Linked DNA regions of Homo sapiens: region 1 is linked to region 2. Evidence: fine-mapped expression QTL. A gene starts in region 2. The other region holds a variant in brackets. All regions are shown on one strand. Distances are between the middles of the regions.

What was found. PIP is the estimated chance that this variant, and not a neighbour inherited with it, causes the effect.
Region 1: its variant is fine-mapped to the expression of TMEM45B in whole blood (INTERVAL, PIP 0.99).

What each region holds. Positions count from the first base shown.
Region 1 is chr11:129,854,175-129,862,174 of GRCh38, reverse strand. TMEM45B (transmembrane protein 45B) reads right to left here. Exons shown (of 6, transcript NM_138788.5): 3 at 7,359-7,565; 4 at 6,283-6,467; 5 at 4,717-4,862; 6 at 2,172-3,601. The coding sequence ends at 3,490. Among named protein-coding and RNA genes, the nearest start is that of NFRKB, 37 kb to the left of the region's middle. RefSeq lists enhancers at 47-341, 1-447. The variant C/T (reference allele first, on the strand shown) is at 4,815.
Region 2 is chr11:129,811,297-129,819,820 of GRCh38, reverse strand. TMEM45B (transmembrane protein 45B) reads right to left here and starts at 3,973. Exons shown (of 6, transcript NM_138788.5): 1 at 3,923-3,973. LOC124902793 (a long non-coding RNA gene) reads left to right here and starts at 5,134. Exons shown (of 2, transcript XR_007062952.1): 1 at 5,134-5,853.

The DNA of each region.
Region 1 (8,000 bases), 43 kb before region 2:
TTGCGTATCTGTTATTTTCAAGAATCACATTTCACATAGAAAGCCATGTGACAGTTTTTAAATTAAAAAAAAAAAAAGGTAGAAATTCCAGAGATCTTGTCTTAGGTATTTACTGCCAGCTACAAACAAACCCCTTTTGAATTTACTTAACAAGGAATTTAATAAAAGTAGCTCTGGCATTCAGCCGCAGCCCTGCCCACATTCCTGTTAGCTGAGGTCACCTGACTCTGCTTGTCGTTTTTGCACAGGCAGACGTGTGCATTCTGGAGAGCAGGGAGTGAGTGTAAAGTTTAGGCTGCGTCAGGATGCTGACTCCTCAGAAGTGTAACTTCGGCACTATCCAGCCTGTGGGTGGAATGGCAATAGCGGAGAATGGGAACTTCCTACTGGAGCTGTTTACGGTGACAGCCCAGGATTTGTGCCACACTTGCTTCCTTCATATGCTGGCTTCAGGTTTCTGATAGATGAATGGCACAGCTATGGTGAGTGTTTTGTTTTTGTTTTTGTTTTTGAGATGGAGTCTCACTCTGTAGCCCAGGCTGGAGTGCAGCGGCAAGATCTCAGCTCACTGCAACCTCCGCCTCCTGGGTTCAAGTGATTCTCCTGCCTCAGCCTCCTGAGTAGTTGGGATCAATCACAGGCACGTGCCACCACGCCCTGCTAATTTTTGTATTTTTGGTAGAAATGGGGTTTCACCATTTTGGCTAGGCTGGTCTCCAACTTGTCACCTCAGGTGATCTGTCTGCCTCAGCCTCCCAAAGTGCTGGGATTACAGGCGTGAGCCACTGCACCCAGCCATGGTGGGTGTTTTGTAGGGAACAATTTCAAAAGGACTTCTGGTGGCAACCATTGAGCCTCTGGTTGACAGATATGGGTAAAATTATTCAGAAAACATATCTAAGACAGGATGTGGAGAATAGTACTGTCATCAGTTTATACTTTAATACCACATCTAACAATGTTTATGATAGGGTTGATCACTTCCATGAAGGCATCACAAGCCTTGCTGTGTGAAGGGCATCTGAATACATTTTAATATTTTATATCTGTTCTTCACACCTTAGCCCCTCACTCTGGAGAAAATAGTACATTTTCTTTCTTAAAATATGGTACACTTAAAGAAACCTCAAATGTGGATCTTTTCTTTGAAAGTAAAACTGAACAGGTCCTTCTGCCCACCTGCAGTCCCCAAGGAAAGAACACATGTTACGTTCATTGCCAATAATAGGTCCTTCAGTACTTGTTGAATGAAGAATACTTGTGTTTTTCCACTGGCCAACCAAGGTGGATCCTGAAAGTGGAACCCGGAGTTCTCTAATAACTAAATTAGTGTTTTTAGTAGCTCATTTTGAATCCCTAAGCTGTGACTTCAACTCTGAAAGGCTGGCTAACTCTGGGAGGTTACCTTCACTTAATTAAGTACAGCATTTCTTCCAAAGCGCATGCAGTGCTTTATGTAAATTCTCTCTCCTGGATTTGTGTGACGTAGCAGGGTTAGAATGGTGAGACAGATGCCTGGTTTTGGAGTCATAAGACTGGCTTTGCCACCTAGCATCTGTGTGGTCTTAGGCCAGCCAACTTTTCTTTTTTTTTGAGATGGAGTCTCACTCTGTTGCCAGATTGGAGTGCAGTGGCATAATCTCGGCTCACTGTGCAACCTCCGCCTACTGGGTTCAAGTGATTCTCCTGCCTCAGCCTCCCAAGTAGCTGGGACTACAGGTGCTCACCACCACACCAAGCTAATTTTTATATTTTTAGTAGAGACAGGGTTTCACCATGTTGGCCAGGATGGTCTCGATCTCTTGACCTCATGATCCACCCGCCTCGGCCTCCAAAAGTGCTGGGATTACAGGCGTGAGCCACCGCGCCCTGCTAGGCCAGCCAGCTTTTCTGAAAGACCTCATGCTCTTACACATTACAAGCGGTTGTGAGAATCAAATGAGATAGGGTGCATCTCAGAATCTGAAAAATACTATGCACACGGAAAGTATTATTTGGTCTCTAAGGCCCATCAACTTGGTCCTAACTCACTTTTATCAGTTTGTAGAACTTAATCTTTTTAAGTTCTCCGTATTTTTTTATGCTTTCATTTTTTAATGTGCTACCCTCTCTACCTGGGATGTGCTTTTTCTACAGGGCAAGCTCTGCATTTCCCCTCCTCTCCTTTTTCTCATCGTGGTTTGTACTTGCCTCTCAGCACCCATCACACTGGATGTAACTACAGGCATGTCTCTCCTGTTTGACTGTAAACTCCTTGCTGGACACATATCTCAGGAGTCCTTACAGCCATTTCAGTGCTGTTGCAAAGTGGATATTTAATAAATATTTGTTGAAGGAAGTCTGTTTGCTTGTTTTTGAGACAGAGTCTTGCTCTGTCACCTAGGCTGGAGTACAGTGGCATGATCTGGGCTCACTGCAAGCTCCCCTACCGGGTTCATGCCATTCTCTTGCCTCAGCCTCCCGAGTAGCTGGAACTACAGGCGCCCGCCACCACACCCGGCTAATTTTTTGTATTTTCAGTAGAGACGGGGTTTCACCATGTTAGCCAGGATGGTCTTGATCTCCTGACCCCGTGATCTGCCTGCCTCGGCCTCCCAAAGTGCTAGGATTATAGGCGCGGTGAAGGAAGTTTTTTTAAAAAAAGAACAGATCCAGAAGCAAGATTAGGGTATCAAGATTTTACATTACTAATTCTGAATTCGTTATCCTTTGCTTTCAGCCATATTAAAACTGAAAGCCTTCCATACCTGACGTTTTTCTATCTCATTATACAGCTTTCCTGTCAGATCTTCTTTTAGGGTGACTTTGAAGAATCAGAACATCAGGGCTCCAACTCTCAGTAGAGCCAGTAACCAGCTTCCTGATTTAAAAAAAAATCACCTTTGGCCTAATTTTGTCACTTATAAACAGTGGTATTGCAGTACCCTGGTATGATTAGTTATGATATGTTTAACAATAATTTTAAAATACCAAAGCTTGTGAATTATTTTACTTTCAAAAAATATGTAAGTTAGAATTGTAATTCTAAAGGCACTGTCGTTTGCTTACACATTCTAACATATTTCTAATAAGAAAGTACCTGCTTTCTTAAGAGAAAAAGGGATAAGTTACCAAAAGCAGCACGTTCTCCTGGGCTCATACCCCGGATTCATCCATGAGGCCACTTCCATTGTAAAGCTTTTAGCATCTCTTGATTTCTCTTGACACTGAGGCACAAAGGCCTGCTACTTATAGGCATTACTTCATTTTTCCTTATGAAGGGTACTATACCAACACAGACTTTATAGTATGTTTAAAAATCCCAACTGCAAGATACACAGGATGCTGTAGGCCTGATTTCCTGTTGTAGAACCTCCAGCCCTGTGTTGAATGAGGAGGTGCAAATATATAGACCCTTAAGATCAGACCACAGCAGGCATTCAGGTGGAGGGGATGAACTCCATTCATTCCAGCTGTGCAGTGGGACATCTGCGCCCTCCGCATCTCGGCTCATTCCTCATCTGAGCCACTCAAGAGGGCGGTCTGGTAAGTGTCATCTGAATTCAGCTTCTGAATTCCAATGATTTCTCCCCTTCCGTGTCTCTTCATCCGAGTCAAAAGGCTTTAATAGAGAAAGAGTAAGAGCCAATTAGCCAGAGATTCCCTTAATCCATTACCAAGGATGTGAAGGCATCTACTGATTCTTAAACTATTTTCTTTATATTTCTATCAAATACTGTGATTACATGTCTATAAACTAGACTTCTTAGGAAATATTCATCAGTAGATAAAGGGGCGATGGTGGAAACTACTGAATGTCATAATTGAGGCCAAGGTCTTGCCTATCTTGGTTTACTGTTTCAGTGGCTGGGCAGGAGAACTAAAAGAAACTGACTTGAGCTCCCTTCTCTTTGGTCCGTGTGGAACTCTTTCTGGATGAAATAATGGCAAAAATCACCGTTACTTTTGCACCAACCTAATATTCTGCTTGGGATCTAGAGAAATGACCTAGAAGAAAAGGTAGAGGCAGCCGAACAGCAAATAGAACTGGTAATACCATTTGCTAAAATTCACCCTTGCACTGAGAGGCTCTGCCATTTATTAGTGGGGTGACCTTGGTCAAGTTACTCAGCTTTTTGAAGCCTTGTTTTCTCCACCTGTAAAAAATAACAGTGCATACTTCATAAAGCAGTGAAGATTAAATGGGATAATAGAGTGTAGCTGCTTTCCACTGGGCCTGGGGCGCAGCAAGTGCATAGGAGTCCATAGCTGTTATCTGTATACCTCTAAGGAGCCTTCAGTGAGGGGTGGAGTGCAGTTTGTCTTAACATTCTGCTCTGGTTTATTTTTTGACTGTCACATCATTTCTGGGAAGCAGGGAGGGCAGGTCTGGAAATAAGATGATGGGTCCAGAATGAACCCTTTACGTGGGGACTGCCATCCAGTACTGATTCCCATTTCAGTATTCCCCACCACACCATAGGCTTAAAATCTGTGAGACCTGCATTTGAAACCTGGGTCCCTCAGGTTACTATGACTTTGAAAAGCCCTCAGGTCATTAAACTTTGAAAAGCCTCATTCCCCTTGTTTGCAAATAAGGGTAGTGATACCTTCCCTGCATGAGAGTACCTTGCACAGAATTTGGCCTGTAGTCGGCACTCATCAGATGGTGCAAGTTAATCACATCAGTCCTGCTTAGAGTTAGGAGGAAAAGCTTCACTGAAGTCTCAGACATACCAGTAAACAAGAGAATAGTTGACGGCCACAATGCTGAGGGCAGCCAGGTAGTGCCAGCAGAAGCACATGGTGATGAACATGAGGTTGGCATCATCCTT[C/T]TGGTCCCATTCGGGTGTTCCAAAAGGTGGGAACAGCACAAACCCAATCTAGGGGATTACAGAGAGAAGTTGGTCTTGTGGTTGGTCGTCCTGAGAAGCAATCTAGCCGTTCTCCTGTGGCCACCGAAGTGGCCCATGTGTGACCACCGCCTCATAGTTCCCACACTTCGTTAGCATAGAAAGGCCTTTTCACATAGAAAAATGGCTCTGGCCAGGTATGGTGGCTTACGTCTGTAATACCAGCACTTCGGGAGGCTGAGGCAGGCGGTTTACAAGGTTAGGAGTTCAAGACCAGCCTGACCAACATAGTGAAACCCTGTTTCTACTAAAAATACAAAAAATGAGCTGGGCATGGTGGTGGGCACCTATAATCCTAGCTAACTGGGAGGCTGAGGCAGGAGAATTGCTTGAACCTGGGAGGCGGAGGTTGCAGTGAGCCGAGATCATGACACTGCACACCAGCCCGGGCCACAGTGCGAGACTGTCTTAAAAAAAAAAAAAAAGCCGGGCGCGGTGGCTCATGCCTGTAATCCTAGCACTTTGGGAGGCTGAGGTGGGTGGATAATGAGGTCAGGAGATTGAAACCATCCTGGCTAACACGGTGAAACCCCATCTCTACTAAAAATACAAAAAATTAGCCAGGCGTGGTGGCGGGCGCCTGTAGTCCCAGCTACTTGGGAGGTTGAGGCAGGAGAATGGCGTGAACCTGGGAGGTGGAGCTTGCAGTGAGCCAAGATTGCGCCACTGCACTCCAGCCTGGGCGACAAAGCGAGACTCTGTCTCAGAAAAAAAAAAAAAAAAAAAAGGCTTCAGCTTAATTTTGGTTGTATAGGCTTACTTAAAAACACAAGTCCAGGTGCAGTGGCTCACGCCTATAATCCCAGCTCTTTGGGAGGCTGAGGCAGGCGGATCACTCGAGTTCAGGAGTTCGAGACCAGCCTGGCCAACATGGTGAAACCCTGTCTCTAAAAATACAAAAAAATTAGCCAGGTGTGGTGGCGGGCACCTGTAACCTGAGCTACTCAGGAGGCTGAGGCATGAGAATCGCTTGAACCTGGGAGATGGAGGTTGCAGTCAGCCAAGATTGCGCCACTGCATTCTAGCCTGGGTGACAGGGTGAGTCTCTCTCAAAACAAACAACAAAACAGAACTTCAGGGCCCACGTTTCCAGTGGACAGTTTAGCAAGCAGAGCCTGTGAAAGGCATCAGCCCATCCTCTGGGGAGGGCAGCTGAACGTCACCGTGCATGCTTTAAATTTTGGATTGCTAATGCATCCTCTGGATGTTAATGGATAAAACTAGGAGTCAAAGGGCGGGCATGGGGGGAAAAGGGTCATCTAAACCCCTTTGCATGGCATGTTAATGCTGCATTTTCAGACCCCATATTCTCGTCAGGGATTTCTCTGGGATGCGCTCGGTGGGGGCTTCTCCATCCAGACCAGCGAGGGGCCTGGGTGTGGAAAATCACCTGCCAGAACCAGGTTCCCTGAAGAATGATGAGACTGGTTCGGAAAAGTTCCAGCACAATGTGGTCCCGGAAGATCACCTCTAGGGAGATACTAACACACCCTCCGAACAGAGCATACAGCAGGAGTGAGTGGATGTGCTGGTCCAGCGGAGGCCGGTTGTGGACGTGGTAGTAGAAGAGGAAACCTGCCACAAACCAGATGGCAGCTGTCAGGGCTACGCTTGGCTTTCACCATCACCGAAGTTTCCTCCTACACCTGTCTCAGCTAGGTTCTTCAGCATTTAGGCAGTTAGTACATAACATTACAGGCAGCAAACAGATGCGAGTAAGTGTATTTCATGAGTATGTTAGGAGTATAAAGCAGCAAGGGATTGTATCTTAAAATCTCTATGGAACCCATGGTGGGGTCAGTATAGGATGGGCCGGCTGAAGCATGTTGCTGATTTGTAACAGACTGTGTGTGTATACTTGAAATTCAGTTTTGCCCTCAACCTTTTTCGACTCTTGCTGAGGTACAGAAGTGAGGTTGTTAGATGACAAAATGTATTTTCATACCCCAGTCAGTGTGAGTCATACTGGCAGCGCTCCCCTGGCAGTGGAGTGGGTCTCCTGAGGCTTGTGATGGAGGCAAGACGGTACCTCCCTGGGCAAAAGGTAGAGTGTGGTTTCGCTTAACCAAAGGGGTGTATCCCCTGCATGGTGGCATTCAACCAGCTGGGGCATTGTGTGTACCCGCATGTGTATGTGCGCACATACGTCCACACCGAGGAATATGCACGTGTGTGAGCAGGGGCTGCTGGCGGCAGTGGGAAGGCGAGGAGGACTCCTGCAGTGTTAGCCGGGGCTTTGGTAGCTGCCTTCAAGCCTCAAAGCTTTCATGAGCTACTTTAGGGAATATGTCACCTGGCCCATCCAGAGTAGAGCACTAGGTCCTATTCAGGTTTTGGCAGTCCAGAGATGTGGATTTTCTGGGGGAGGTTATTATATTTGCAACATTTCTGATATTTTGTACTCTGATCCTTCATAAATATGACTTGTCAGGCTCTCCTTCCTCTCCATCCGTTCCACAAAATTACCTTCCATGAATACTGCCACAGCCATAACCAGTCTGTCCACCCCCAAGGGAACGTGGCTGACCAGATAGGTGAGCATGTCAACAATTCCTGAGACTGCAAAGAATAGGTACATGGTGCTGTGCTGCCAATTCATTAACTTTATCCAGTGGTTCTCATGGTAGAGGTGCAGGTGGGGCCCATCCGGAACAAACTGCTCTGCCAGGATCCCTGCAGGGAAATGAGGATGGATGTTTTAGAGGGAAGAGTAGCTCTAAGACAAATAGGAGCAAGGAATAACCCAAAGGCATGAGCGAAGCGGAGATGGGGTGAGGTGAGGGTGGCCCGCGGGTCAGCAGAGCTACTTTGCTGCCTCAGGTGCAGCTGCTTCAGTATAAAGTAGGGTGTGTGCTGAGTCACCTGTGTAGACATCTTGCCATTGTTGTTCCTTTTAGGGGTTTGGGGTTGAGGGTAGAAGAATCAATGAACACAACCACACACACATAGATCCCCAGGAGGTTTGTCCAGGAGCAGAGATGAGCAAGACATCATCACTTAAGTCGGAGTGTGGCTGATAGAATAATCTCTGGGCTTCCCTGCCAAGTGAGCAGTGAAAGAAATCCCAGACAGAAACAATTAGGCTGAAAGCAGAATCTGAGCAGAGAC
Region 2 (8,524 bases):
GCACTTTGGGAGGCCGAGGGGGGCAGATCACAGGGTCAGGAGTTCAAGACCAGCCTGACCAACATGGTGAAACCCCGTCTCTACTAAAAATACAAAAATTAGCTGGGCGTGGTGGTGCACGTCTGTAATCCCAGCTACTTGGAGGCTGAGGCAGGAGAATCACTTGAACCCAGGAAGCGGAGGTTGCAGTGAGCCGAGATTGTGCCACTGAGAGAGACTCTGAGTCAAAAGAAAGAAAGAGATGAGACAGAGAGAGAGAGAGAGAAAAGAAAAGAAGAGAGAAAAGAAAAGAAAAGAAAAGACAAGACAAGACTCTTCTGGAGCATGCCTCTGCCCGTCTTTCTGCTGCAACTTGCGGAAGTGAGTATGAAAGCTCCATGCTAAGGAGGGTGGTGCGGGAAGACACAAGGAGCCTGTCTCAGATGACGTTCATATCGGAACCCCTTTCCCAGCCCCAGCCTTCTCACCTCCAGACTTCTCGTTCTCTGAGAAAAACAAACTCCTTACTTGTTTAAGCCGCTGTAGTAGGGTTTTCTGTTCTTGTAGCTGAATGAACGTCTAATGACATCTCACACTTTTTCAGATGTTTATCTGACATACCACATTTTATGTATGCCTGCTATGGGCACTGTGCTAGGAATAAGACAAGTAAAGCTCTCTTTGTCATGGAACCAGGAGCACAGTTAGAACAGAAGTTAGAACTTTAGCCACTATAATAACGGCTACAGTTATAATAACAGTTAGAACAGAAGGTCCATAGGCATTTGAGGCTGGGATTCAAGGAGGTTATGTTTGCTGTCACAGACCTCAAACCAAAAGAGTACATCAAAATAAGTCACTGGATTTATACATTTGGCAAATTCTCAAGGGACCACATGACAGAAGGAGCAAAAATCTGAACATTGTTTTTAGCTGTAATTCTCCAATGAAGTAGATTTGGGGAAGCAACATGAGGTACTTGCTTTATTTTTCTTAAATCCGGTTTTCTTCCTTGAAAAACCACAAGATTGGACTTGACAATCTTTAAGGTTATACTCAGCTCTAAGATATTTTTGTAATTATATGGAACAAAGATGGGCATGAAATATACCAAACGAGAGAGTTTCTAAATTTAGATTCTGATAATTCAAGTCAGAAAACATATTAAGTGTTCGGGAAAAACAAATCACAATCTTCCATCACAAAATTCAACAAGAACAACAAAAACCACTCCAGAGGCAGCTGTGGTATTCTGGAAGGAATGTTGGTTTGAGTTCTGGCTCTGCCATTTAATTACTGGCTAACCCTGGACCACATACACAATATCTCTGTTTCCATCTCCTCATTTTTGAAATACGGATTCTAATCTGACCTGAACAGTGCTGTTTACAAACATCGCCTTGTGCTCTATAAAGCCCCATTATGATTTCAACAACCAGCAAGATAATGGCTTATGATATCTAAGTCCTGGCAAGGAGAATGCGGGTGTGTACCTTGCTATATTCAGTTGAACTCTGCATCACATACAGAAGGCTGATAGACCTTTTAGCTTTCCTTTTTCCTCCAGTAGTGTAGCTTGTGGCCATTTAAGTTTTACACAAGAGAATAGAAAAGAGAGATAAAATTTGCTAAAATTCAAATAGTCTATTTGTGTTTGTTTCTAGCCTCAGTGAAGGTTTTGGGGAGAGGGGTAGCTGGTTAAAAGAGTAGAAGCTTAAGAGTTCAAAGAAAGTGTGAGGAGGACAGCACTCACCTGTGGCCTCTAATTGTTCATATTCAGTATGGTCTCATACTGGGAATAATCTAGTGTTTGTCTTATGATCTTTCTATAGAAACAAATATGGAATGTGTCTATAAGTACCATTAGTTGATGACACACTAGTGACTTTAATTCTCTTACAGTAAAAAGTTTTGCAATAGCAAGGACTTTGGCTAGGGGAGTGACTCTATGTGTGGTGAAACTGTCCTCACCCATTTTTCATTTGAGGAAAAGAGATAATCTTTTGATTACACCCAACACAGGTAACATCTGTACTTTGAACAGTTAAGTATAGCAGCTGATGTTTAACTGCAGGTAGGGGGGAGATGAGAAACAGAAATAACTGGTGCCAAATGTGAGATTCAATTACCTCGACCATCACAACCAACATCAACCAGAAGGGTGTGGGAGGAACTCATGGAATAAATGGGAACAGGTGTGGCCTGAGGATAAGTAAGTGGGGGCACTGTTTCCATCTTCATGAAGATGTGAGAGGAAATCAAAGCTCTTTAAAAAGAAGGAAATGGAATGCTTGGCTCCTGTAATATCAGAACAAATAATGCACAGCCAGAGGTCATGCCTCACCTTCTGCTTATCTCAGTCACCTCCACTTGTAAAATCAGTGGGCCATATTCAATAAAACCTTCATATCAGTTCCATATCTTTTCCCAGAAACCCCAGGAACAGAGGGAGCCAATATCCTTATTAAACCAAGAAGCTCACTGTCACAAAGAGCTAAGTCTGACGCCCCTGGGCCCCTACCTAACCACGTGTCCTGATTCTTTCCATAACTTCCCACTGCACAACATCCAGGTTATACTGAAGATATTACACATCTGGTTAAAAACAGTACACGTCTCTCATGAACAATAAGCCATCCTTTCTATTAAAATGAGTGTAAAATTGCAGGTAAAATGCTGTAGGCAGGCCTGTTTGGAAGGCTATGCGACCCTAGGAGACAAAAAGGTGCAGGAGGAGGAAAAGGGCAGACACCGCAGAAAGCGGTCGAAGAGAACGTGAAAGAAGTGGCCATTTCTAGCTGGGCGCGGTGGTTCACGCCTGTAATCCCAGCACTTTGGGAGGCTGAGGCGGGTGGATCATGAGGTCAGGAGATCGAGACCATCCTGGCTAACACGGTGAAACCCCGTCTCTACCAAAAAAAAAAAAAATACAAAAAATTAGCCGGGCGTGGTGGCGGGCGCCAGTAGTCCTAGCTACTCGGGAGGCTGAGGCAGGAGAATGGTGTGAACCCGGGAGGTGGAGCTTGCAGTGATCCGAGATTGCGCCACTGCACTCCAGCCTGGGCGACAGAGCGAGACTCCGTCTCAAAAAAAAAAAAAAAAAAAAAAAGAAGTGGCCATTTCTGCAACTTTTAGGAGAGCTACCTGCCCTCAAATTTTGAAAGGGTTTCTATTTCTTAAAGTGCTACGTTTCCCTGGCTGAAACTCACATCTTTCTTCCCTCTAGGGCTGGATCAAAGCTTCAGAGGTTGTTTCTCTGGCCCTAGACAGGGCCACCCCCGCAAATTTCTCCCCCACTGCGCCTGACATCCGCTTCCATCCATGGCTCCATTAACGGAAGCTAAGCACTGGCTCGGGGGACTTTATCCACCGCCCGGTGTTATTAGATTCCAGGCTTCCTGGCCTCAGGAAAGGATCTGGCTCGTGTATTTGTGTATCGCAGCTAACAAGGAAAGGCAGTCGGTACCAGTGCCCAGAGCTATGTGAGCTGTGACTGGTCACAGCCCAGGAGCCAGATGGCATCCCCGGGGGCGCGCGTCCCCGGACTCACCGGGCAGACGGAGGCCCGGGGCTTCACACCTTCCCCTCACCGGGCAACGCGGCAGACCTGACTCGCGGGGGACTGAGCAATATTCGTTCCAGGGCCGCGGCCAGCCGGACAGAGGCACTCGGGGGCGGTGGGAGTAGTGTGCGCACCGGTTCCGCAGCCCGGAGGGGGCCCCAGCTGGGCTTCCGCGACACCAGGGCCCTCCATCCCCTCCCGTCCTCCCCTAGCGCAGCCTTCACCCCTGTCCCAGAGCCCCTCCCTGTCCGCGTCCCCTCCCCCGCAGGTCCCCTGCGAGTCGGAACCTCCTCTCCATCACAGCCCCGCTCCTTGGCGGGGCCCCCTCTCCCTTCGAGCCCTCCTCCAGGTTCGAGCCCCCTGCGGGTACGGACGTCTGACCTGTGCCCAGCGCCTCGCAGCCGTCTGCAGCCCGCGCCGCGCGCCAAGTGCGTCCGCCCAGAAGCAGGTGCAGCTCCAGGCCCGCCCCGCCCCGCTGCGCCCCGCCCCGCTCCACTCCGCCAGGCCTGGCAGCCGCCAGCCCCTTTCCACCCTTGACCGCCCTTCCCGGTCCCGGCCAGCGTGCGGGGCATCTGTCGTCAGGTCCGCACTTCCTCCAGGCCTTTGACTTTCCCGTGGAGATGTCTCTGGCCTCAGGAACTCCCTAAGCTGTGTGCTTCAGGAGAGGCTGGTTCCTGAGTCACCCAAGAGGACTGCAACCAACCTGGACCTCCTGAGATGCAAAGAGATCGCAGGGCCTGGGAGGCGGCGAGGACCCTGAGAACAGGCTGTGGCTCCGAAGAGTGTTTGTTACCAAGCCAGGCAACCACTGCGAACACACCGCAGAAACAGCCACGGATCACCGTCCAGCAAAGGAAGAAGGTGCCAACGGTCCATCAGGGACCACAACCCAGTTTTTTTAGTTTAAGTTTGGTGGCTAAGTTTGAGTGTCACATAGTTCATTCATTCCTTCATTCATTCAACAAATCTGCCATGTTCCCATCTGATAACAGATCTGACAGGTGGGCACTGTTCTAGGTGCTGGCGATAGAGCTAAGAAGGAAACAAAGTTCCTGTCCCGGAGAAGGGGGCTACCTGCTGAGGAGAGCATGACTTTCTTTGTGGTATTGTGCTGTGGCAGCAGGGTCCTCTTCTGTAAGCTACTGAGAGGTGAAACCCGCTGGGCTTCTGGGTCGGATGGGGACTTGGAGAACTTTTCTGTCTAGCTAAAGGATTGTAAAAGCATCAATCTGCACTCTGTGTCTAGCTAAAGGTTTGTAAACACACCAATCAGCACTCTGTAAAAATGCACCAATCAGTGCTCTGTGTCCAGCTAATTGGTGGGGACTTGGAGAACTTTTCTCTCTAGCCAAAGGATTGTAAATGCACCAATCAATGCTCTATGTCTAGCTAAAGGTTTGTAAACACATCAATCAGCACTCTGTAAAAACGGACCAATCAGCACTCTGTAAAATGGACCAATCAGCACTCTGTAAAATGGACCAATCAGCGCTCTGTAAAATGGACCAATCAGGAGGATGTGGGCAGGACCAATCAGGAGGATGTGGGCGGGGCCAATGAGGGAATAAAAGCTGGCCATCCGAGCCAGCGGCAGCTGCGTTTGGGTCCCCTTCGATGGTGTTGGGGTTTTGTTGTTTCGCTCTTTGCAATAAATTTTGCTGTTGCTCACCTTTTAGGTCCACACTACCTTTATGAGCTTTAACACTCACAGTGAAGGTCTGCAGGTTCACTCCTGTAAACCAGCGAGACCAGGAAGCCACCACAAGAAACAACTCTGGAGCCGCCACCTTTAAGAGCCATAACACTCACTGTGAAGGTCTGTGGCTTCACTCCTGAAGTCAGCGACACCACGAACCCACAGGGAGGAGCAAACAACTCCAGACGCACCACTTTTAAGAGGTGTAACACTCCCTGCGAAGGTCTGTGGCTTCACTCCTGAGGTCGGCGAAACTACGAACCCGCTGGGAGGAAGGAACAACGCGGATGCGCCACCTTTAAGAGCTGTAACACTCCCTGCGAAGGTCCGCGGCCTCACTCATCAAGTCGTGCATAGACCACGAACTCTCTAGAAAGAAAAAACTTCGGACACACCTGAACATTTGAAGGAACAAACTCCGGACACACCATGTTTAAGAACTATAATGCCGTGAAGGTCCGCGGCAGGACCGGGACCAGGAACTCTTCAGAGGGAACCAATTCCGGATACACAGCTTCGTGGAATGGTTCTGCACTGTGTGTGTGTGTGTTTCCCGTCAACCCTGTGCACACTATTAGAAGAACACAAGCGTTAAGGCTCCCTCTCAGTCCTGCCGGTAAGAATCCAGGGCTGATGCACCTATTAAAAGCTTCTCAGGAGGCCTGGGGAAGTGGGGGTTGAGAACCACGGGTCTAGATCTCTAAGATGCCTGGCAGCTTATTCCACTGTTGAGGGCACTGGCAATCAGGAAGGGCTTCATGGAAGAGATGTTTGCATTTGGGTTTTAAAGCAGGGCCACAGCTAGATATTAGCAGTGCAGAAGGACACGGGATCCGACGGGCAGCCTGTTGACCAAATGGCTCCGTTTTTATAAAGTCAAAGAACATCACTGTGAAGGATAAGGCATTAACTGGAGCAGACCTTTCCCTGGTAAAACAGAGCGAATGGGATCTGGTGGGAGGTGGTAATGGCCAAGAGGTAGTGCCGTCAGTGAAAAGCGTCATGGAGTCGTGCACCTTACAGGGAGGATGGGCCGCAGCCAGGAGCTGAGAGGGCATCTTTTAAATTTGCCGTCAGCTCAGGAACTTAATCACACATCTCATCCTAGCCCTTGCTCACACCCATTGTTTTAGAAATCGTTGATAGAGTGGAGTCCTGGATGCCTGTTACTCTGGGAGAGGCTGTCCTCTGTCACCAGATCCCTTTTATGGACAGGCATTTTCTTTAGTAATATTTACCTTGTCTACGATGATGAAACAAAGGTGTGACCTCTTAATTGTATAGTTAATGGTGAGTAGAGATGCTTTTTTTTTTTTTACTTTTTATTTTTGAGACAGTTTTGCTCTTGTTGCCCAGGCTGGAGTGCAATGGCGCGATCTCGGCTCACCACAACCTTGGCCTCCTGGGTTCAAGTGACTCTCGTGTCTCACTCTCCTGAGTAGCTGGGATCACAGGCATGCGCCGCCATGCCCAGCTAATTTTGTGTTTTTAGTAGAGTCGGGGTTTCTCCATGTTTGTCAGACTGTTCTTGAACTCCCGACCTCAGGTGATCTGCCCACCTCAGCCTCCTAAAGTGCTGGGATTAGAGGTGTGAGCCACCTCGCCCGACGGAGATGCTTCTTAATATTAAAAAATCTAAACAAAATAATTTCTGCTTCAAATTATAATAACCAGGTACCAGGACAAAACCAATTTTTTGTTGTGTGTGTGTGTGTGTGTTTGAGACGGGCTCACTTTGTTGCCCAGGATGAAGTTCAGTGGTGCAATCATAGCTCACTGTAGCCTCGACCTCCAACGCTCAAGAGATACTCTTGCCACAGCTTCCTAAGTAGCTGGGACTACAGGTGTGCATCAACACGCATGGCTAATGTTTACATTTTTAAAAATTGCAATAGTTTTTGGGGAACAGGTCATTTTTTTGTTACATGGATAAGTTATTTAGTGGTGATTTCTGAGATTTTTGTGTACTCATCACCTGAGCAGTGTACACTGTACCCAATGTATAGTCTTTTATCCCTCACCCTCCTCCCACTTTCCCTTGAGTCCCCAAAGTCCATTATATATATATATATATATATATATATATATATATATGTATGTATGTATGTATTTTTTTTTTTTTTTTGAGACAGTCTTGCTCTGTCGCCCTGGCTAGAGTGCAGTGGCGCAATCTCAGCTCACTGCAACCTCTGCCTCCCAAGTTCAAGCGATTCTCCTGCCTCAGACCTCTGAGTAGCTGGGACTACAGGCGCGTGCCACGACGACTAATTTTTTGTATTTTTAGTAGAGACAGGGTTTCACCATGTTAGCCAGGATGGTCTCAATCTCCTGACTTCATGATCCGCCTGCCTTGGCCTCCCAAAGTGCTGGGATTACAGTTGTGAGCCACTGCACCCGGCCCATTATATCATTCTTATGCCTTTGCATCCTCATAGTTCAGCAAACCCTTATAAGTGAGAACATACACGATATTTGGTTTCCCATTCCTGAGTTACTTCACTTGGAATAGTGGTCTCCAACTCCCGTACAAATTGCTGCAAATGCCATTACTTCAGTCCTTTTTATGGCTGAGTAGTATTCCATGGTGTAAATATATCACATTTTCTTTATCCACTTGTCAGTCGAGGGGCATTTAGGCTGGTTCCATATTTTTGCAATTGTGTATTTTGCTCCTATAAACATGCAGATGCAAGTGGCTTTTTCATATAATGACTTCTTTTCTTCTGGATATATACTCAATAGTGGGACTGCTGGATCAAATGGTAGTTTTACTTTTAGTTCTTTAAGGAATCTCCATAAAGTTTTCCACAGTGGATGTACTAGTTTATATTCCCACCATCAGTGTAAAAGTGCCCTTTTCATCACATCTATGCAAACATCTACTATTTTTTGACTTTGTAAATTATGGCCAGTCTTGCAGAAGTAAGGTGGTATTTCATTGTGGTTTTAATCTGCATTTCCCTGATAATTAGTGATGTTGAGCATTCTTTTTCATGTGTTAGTCATTTGTGTATCTTCTTTTGAGAACTGTCTATTCATGTTCTTTGCCCACTTTTTGATGGGATTATTTCTTTTTTTCTTACTGATTTGAGTTCCTTGTAGATTCTGCATATTAGTCCTTTGTAGGACGCATAGTTGAATATTTTCTCCCATTCAGTGAGGTGTCTGTTTACACTGCTGATTATTTTGCTGTGCCGAAGTGTTTTCATTAGGTAATATCTATTTATTTTTGTTTTTGTTAGATTTGCTTTGGGGTTTTTGGTCTTAAAATCTTTGCCTAAGCCAAT